2 linked regions of the Homo sapiens genome follow. The protein of the gene in region 1 purifies or fractionates together with the protein of each later gene. This does not show direct contact. Each region holds a gene or a part of one and is shown on either strand. Other genes may lie near its edges.

The links.
Region 2: the proteins of CAPSL (region 1) and EML4 purify together in Homo sapiens (affinity purification with mass spectrometry; one large-scale study listed by BioGRID and IntAct). This does not show direct contact.

The regions. Positions count from the first base shown.
Region 1 is NC_000005.10:35,907,549-35,911,202, forward strand, and holds part of CAPSL (calcyphosin-like protein), read right to left. Parts: intron 2,996-3,654; coding exon 2,818-2,995; intron 2,528-2,817; coding exon 2,318-2,527; intron 1-2,317.
Region 2 is NC_000002.12:42,175,811-42,179,464, forward strand, and holds part of EML4 (echinoderm microtubule-associated protein-like 4), read left to right. Parts: intron 1-3,654. UniProt on the Homo sapiens protein: Essential for the formation and stability of microtubules (MTs). Required for the organization of the mitotic spindle and for the proper attachment of kinetochores to MTs. Promotes the recruitment of NUDC to the mitotic spindle for mitotic progression.

The sequences.
Region 1 (3,654 bases):
CACACCTCCATCCAAATGGCTTCCGGCTGCTATGGGAGTCCAGTGAGGTATTAGTGCAAGATTTATGACATCAAATTCCGTGACTGCTGAAACTCCAGCAACCTTTATGGGTATTTGAGAGTTTAACCTAGATTATCAAGTTTGAACATTACCTTTAGCTAGGAGCTATGCTAAATTTTTTGCATTATTTTAAATTTTGTCTTATATGGGATGTTTTTAACCATAAATGAGCACACTGGCTTCAAGTACAGCTATGCTTCACCACAAGCAATCTTAATATGCAAAATAGTGCAATTTGCAAGAGGTAAATTTTAGAAGCTAATTATTCTTCTCATAAAAGAATTTACCATGGAGTTCCTCTACAACAACAATTTCTTGTGCATTTAAAATACAATTCAGTGTGCGAAAGTTTGAATTACACATCACTTTTCAGAAACACTTTTATTATGTCTATTAAATGAGATATCCCTGGTAAGCCCTTAGCAAATGCCCAGTTGATATGTGCTCAAAAAGTGTTGCCCAGATTCATTATTATGCTAAATGGGGTCATGTGTATATTATATTTAGTAATTTTAAAACAGTTATTTCTGAATCTTTTAGAGCTAAGGATCACAAATACACGTGAGTGTAAGAGTCATCTGGTACACATTAAAATGTAAAGCCTTGGACTCCATCCTCCAAAAAATCAGATTCTGTGGTTCTGCAGTGCAGCTAGGAATCTACATTACTAATAAATCCTCCCTGATGATGATTATGAACAGCCAGAGTTGGGTATCAATACAGGGTCTGTAACATGCAGATGACATCAAGTGCTATAACTGCTAAAAACCTCAATAACCTTTATGAGCTTTTGAGAGCTTAATGTGGCTTCTTAAGATAAATATCAAAAGGGGTGATGTGCAGACTTGAATCAGCCGAATCACAACTGGCTATTTTGACTTTTGTTAGAGAAAAGGGTAGCTGAGGTTTCCCCTGGCAATGAGGAGGAACCACCTGCAGAGAGGAAGCAGACACACTCTAGGATCCACAAAGGGGTGGGCTAATTTGGGGAAATGGCAGTTGGCTATTTTTCCACTGACATCTCAGTGATCAAGGCCAGCAATACTGGAAGAAAACATGTAGTTTTTATTTCTGTCCCTAAGATTTTGGCTGCCCTATTGAATTTTGGCCCTTTTGTAAACCTGCCTCCACAATCCTCAGCCTGAAATAGAGGGTATGTCTCCATCCCTGAAAGGGAAATGTCAGCAGGAAGAACAGAAAGGTCACCTTCCTATCCCCCACCCCTTGCTAATGAGACTCATCATGAAGTTTCATTTAAAAAGTTGGAGCACATTCCCTTCAGAAGAGGAAGGTTTATTTCTTCTTCCCTTAACCACTCTCTTCTTGTCCACTGGGCCACTTATCTTTTCCTGTGCTGTAAAGGGCTTAAGAGACAATGAACCCTGGGGCTGTGCTGCTGCTGACTGTTACTCAAGGGACAATCCCCTTTCCTTATCACCAAAACCCTTAGATCATCTAAGAACAGAACTGGCTCAGGGTTTTTTTTTTTTTTCTAAAAAGTCAATTTAGGGCTGTTGATAAAGGACAGATGACATTTTCATCTCAGCCTAGACACAGTCATGGAGCTATATAATTCCTTACCCTACCAAGCTATGCATTTGTAACTTGAAGATAAAAGTTAATGGAGATGGGCGGTTGATTTTGTTTTCAAATTCAGTGCAGTTTAGAAATGTAAGTTAATCTCAAAGCACACTAAAGAATAAATCAGAGTAAATTCTGTTATTTGACATTCCCTTTACCAAAAACTACCTTTAAATGGCATTTCCACATAGCAAAGTGTGAAGATGAATGAGGATGAGTGTGAAGGCACTAAAACATCCTGAAAGGCCTTGTAAATCTGTTCTCCAAAATTAAATTATGATCTCATTTCAAAGTTAAATATATTTTATTATAATCAGTTCACTGGAGTGCAACTAGCTGAGTATGGTAAATATAGTAACCATAAAATGGCATGTTTAATCAGAACATCACATTCCCCAGATGACAGGTCATCACTTATGTGGATCCCCTACCAATATATTTCAATATATGTCTATGAGTGTGTGCGTGCACAAACATACATTAGGTTTCAACTAAAGTAACATGAAGGTTTCCCCTGGCAATGGAGAAGTTTCTAGATTGTTCCTAGGGAAATAGTTTACTTCTATTTACAACAAATATGGTATCAATGTGTTAACATTTTTAAGAGTTTGGACCTATTTCCCATTTACAATTTCGAATTGAAGAAATTTCCCCTAGATTAGGCTCTTTTACTTACCAATCCATCTTTGTCATAGGGTGAATCAAAGTTATCCAGAAATTTCCTAAATACTTGTTCCTCACTCCATTCCCCATTCTGGTACTTTGGGTGGTGTTTTGCATTATATACTTCACGAAGGTCTTCGATTGTTATAACACCATCTCCAGTCTTGTCTAACTTTCTAAAAGCTTGCATGATTACCTCTTTTCTGGCTCTGGACATTGGAGGCTACAAAAATAGAAGAATACATACAGAGACATACATAAGCAAATGAGCTTTTTTGGTATCCTATGTGATAAAATATCTCATTCCCCTCAACGATGTGAAATAATATTTGTGTGCTATTATGTAATAGACACTACAATTGCTCCAAAAATTCCTAAGTCTGTTCACAGTTTTCTGCTTATCCCCCTCCCCACAGTGTACTAACAACTTGTAAAAACAAAACCTCAAGGTAGCCAACCCAAACCACGTGAAAGCCAAACTCAGCAGATACACTGATTAATGGGGCCACTTACTCTTAATGTGAGAAGAAATTCATTGAAGTCTATTGTTCCATTTCCATCTTTATCAAACCTCCGGAAAAGTTCTTCCACCTCTTCTTTTTCCATGACCACAGCATAATCATTTAACCCTTTCATAAATTCTTTAAAATCAAGGGTTCGATTATTATCGTCATCCATAATTCTAAACACTCTGAAGAAAATACACACAAAAATTCAGAAGAAATGTACAAATAACAGGTGTAAGTGTAAAGATTAAAAAAAAATCCACACTCAAGGTTTCGTCAAATTAAAATACAAAAGTCTTAAATTCTTCTCTGCACCCTCCTTTCCAAAACTGGAGAGCCTCTTCCCACCACACACACACAAACACACACACAAAGTATAATTCTAATTACATGACATTCTGCAAAAGACAAAACTGTGGAGACAGTAAAAAGATGAAAGGTAAAGGAAAGAGTTGAATTGGTGAAACATGGGATTTTTAGGTCAAAGAAACTATCCTTTATAATACTATGATGGTGGATACATGACATTATGCATTTGCTAAAACCCATAGCACTTTACAGAGCAAGGTGTAAACCTTAATGCATATCAATTTTAAAAAAATGATTTAGGAAGTCAGAAAATCACAGTGATGTGGCTATGTTAGGGATATAGGAGCCAACTTAAATAGCTCTCAAGATCAAGGCTGGAACAATTAAACCAATAAAACTATGCTGGATTATAACCCAAAATATAAAAAAGAAATCCCTACATCCATACTGGTTAAATAAATGATAGAGTAAATAAAGATGAAGAAAATGACAAATTTCTCTTGCAGAAAAATTCCAAATAAGTTATGGATATATT
Region 2 (3,654 bases), on another chromosome or scaffold:
TAAATAAAACACCATAGAAAGGAAAGAAGAATAGAAAAATAAATTATCTTTAGCCCATTTGTATGCAGCTGATGTTAACATGTTAATGTACTTGTTCTTAGTCTTTTCCTATGCTTAGTTTTTTAATAGTTAAAATCATACTGCAGACATAATTTTGCATTCTGTTTTTTTCGTTGGATCCTAACCTTTTTTTTTTTTTCCCACTTGAACTCAGATTTTTCTGATGGAGTCCAGTGGTCTTTTCTCTACTCCAATACTGACTCTTTATAACCCTCAGGTACATACCTGAATCTGAACTTCTCTCCTGAATCAGCTTCTTTTCCTTATTTCCCACTGACTGTATCACCCAGTTTGAAATTTCAGAATCATGTTTTGATTCTTTGCCATTTTTGCCTAGGGCATTAGAATCTCTTCTAAGACTTGTCAATTCTTGTCACCTTTTCTCATCCCTTTTCTTTTCCACCGCTATAGTTCAGGTACTTATTATTCGATGCGTGGATTATTGCATGGCGTCGAGAATCTCCACCTGTCCAGTTTATTTTGTACAGGGCCCTCAGATTTATCTTCCTAAAGCCATGCTTTGATTGTGCTATTCACCCTCTCAGATTGCTTCATTGCTTTAATGACTACATTCAAACATCTTAGCCTCTTAACATCTTCTCAAGTCCTCTGTCATCTCTTTCTACTGTCTTACCATGTTCTGACCAAAATGACCTATTTCTTATTCCTCACATTTTCATCTTTTCATCCTGATGACTATTCTCAGTACCCTTCAAGGCTCAACTCAAATATTATTTCCTTTCTAAAAATGTTTACTTCTTTTCATTCCCAGCCCAAAGTATTCTTCCGTGAACACTTGATAGGACCACTCTTGGGGTACTTATTGCAGAATGTTTATTCCAATAGTTATAAGGTGAAAGTAATTATTACAGATCTTACAATTGTTATGTCTTATTTCCCTGAGCCAAATTGGTTTTATTTTTATTTATTTATTTTTTTATGAGACAGAGTTTTGCTTTGTCGCCCAGGCTGGAGTGCAGTGGTATGATCTCAGCTCACTGCAACCTCTGCCTCCTGGGTTCAAGGAATTCTCCTGCCTCAGCCTTCCGACTAGGTGGTGTTACAGGTGTATGCCACCACACCCAGCTAATTTTTGTATTTTTAGTAGAGACGGGTTTCACCATGTTGGCCAGGCCTGTCTCAAACTCCTGACCTCAAGTGATCTGCCCGCTGAGGCCTCCCAGAGTGCTGGGGGATTGCAGGTACCATGCCTAAGCCAAATTATAAACCTCTTGAAGGCTGTATTGAAGGTTTTATTGAAGGCTGAAACTCTCATGTGTCTTTGAAGTCTTGCAGTGGAGATTTCATGATCCAGTAAAATGTGGAGGAAATAAATTAGGGACTAGTATATAGTTGACAACTTAACAACCTTCACTTTCATACCTCTTTTTTTTTTTAAAGAAATGACATTTGAAGACCAAAAGATTGTAATACACAATCTCAGAATAAAAAATTGTAAAATTACTTTGAAAATTAAATATGGCTCACGCCTGTAATCCCAACAGTTTGGGAGGCTGAGGCGGGCGGCTCACTTGAGCTCAGGAGTTTGAGACCAGCCTGGGCAACATGGTGAGAACCCGTCTCTACCAAAAGTACAAAAAAATTAGCCAGGCATGGTGGTGCACGCCTGTGGTCCCAGATACTCGAGAGGCTGAGGTGGGAGGATTGCTGGAGCCTGGGAGGTGGAGGTTGCAGTGAGCGCAGATCACACTACTGGGCTCCAACCTGGGTGACACAGCGAGACCCCGTCTCAAACAAGCAAACAGACAAACAAAAACTCATTATGTTCTTATTTCTCATTTCACCTGAAATAAGTGAAATGTTCTAGACTTTATTGGGAATCTGATAAAGAATTCTGTGCCAGATTCTAGGGTATTTTCAAGTACAAGTCATGTGCATGACCTGTTAATGGTTTTTGAAATCAGTTTAGTCGTGGTCAGGACCAACATTAGAAAAATGAGGAGAAGAGGAAGAGATAATGTAAAATATCAGTACTTCGTGTGATATTGCTTCATGGAACATTTAATTTCAGTTACATATATTTGTCTTAGATTTCAGTGTAAAATTTCTGTTGGTCACAATCAGATGAAAGATACATTTTTAGTGGCTAATCCCTATCTTTGAGAGAATAGGTGGAAAGGTTGACATACATGAAAAGGTGGATGAACAATCAGAAGTAATCATTGCGGGCTATGTCTTTGACAAGTTTTTAGAATCTGAATATAATTAGAATATGTTTAACAGCAGCAGCAGCAGAAAGATATTTATTAGTTGTAGAATCAGTGTAATTCAGGCAAACTCAGTATGTAAAGAAGTGATTTTATAAAATTGGTAGGGCTAGGGTATGTTTACCTTGCAAATCAATTCTTTACTTTGAAAGAGAATTTTCAGGCCAGGTGGTATAGCTCACACCTATAATCCTAGCACTTTGGGAGGCCAGGGTAGGAATATCACTTGAGGCCTGGAGTTCAAGACCAGTCTGGGCAACATAGTGAGACCCTGTCTCTACCAAAAAAAAAAAACAAACAAAAATTAGCTGAACGTGGTGGTGCATGCCCAGCTCCTTGAGAGGCTGAGGTGAGAGGATCGCTTGAGCCCAGGAGGTGGAGGCTGCAGTGAGCTATGATATGCCACTGCACTCCAGCCTGGGCAGCAGAGCGAGCAGCGAGACCCTGTCTCAAATAAGAAAGAGGATTTTCCTTGTTTGTAGTGTGGTGAGTATCCCCCGTGTGGTGCCTGTCACGTGAGAGATCCCTGGGAGCCAAAAACAACAACTGCAAAAAAGAGGATTTACCATATTGCTGTATTTTATTTTTAAGCTGATCTGATGGAGTTGTCTGTGTCTTGACTGGTTCCCCACTTATTTGCTGAAATACATTTTTTCCCCAGGAAGCTGTCCCTGATTGGTACACTCAAACCATTGCACTATAGCGCTTCTAAAGTGGAGGGGGCTGAGCACTTACACCTAAGGGATCTGGGAGTGTAGGCAAAAGTTGAAATCTATTTAACTTTAAAATTTATATGATTGTTTTGCATCCATTATAATAAAGATTTGTTTAGACAGGAATCATCAATAGGTGCTAAATCTAGGGGGATATTTTGGTGAGAAGCAGGTTGTCTGCATGGTCTTAAATTTCCCCCCATATAATGCTTATTACTTGTAAGGGGGGGAAACAGTAACTCAATATGGTGGTGAAATCAGACAACACCTTGTGTGCATGATCAAAATAAATATCACCAATGGATTTGTGTGTCTCTGCATGTGATACCCAGAAAAGAGCACATCAGTTACAGTGTTTTTCAGCCATGAATTCATAGCCTGAATCTAATCATGAGGAAATTTTAAACTCCAGATGGGGAACATCCTATTTTTTAAAACGTCGGGGAGCTGGGTTTTTTTTTTTTTTTTAATATTATAAAGACAAAGTCTGTGGAAACATTCCAGACTAAAGAAGACTTAAGAGATGTGGTAACTAAATGAACTACCTGATTTTAGACTGGATCTTGTATAGAGGGGAAAATACAATAAAGGATATTATTGGATCACTTGGCAAAATTGGCATGTGGATGGTGGTAAGTATTGCATTAATGTTT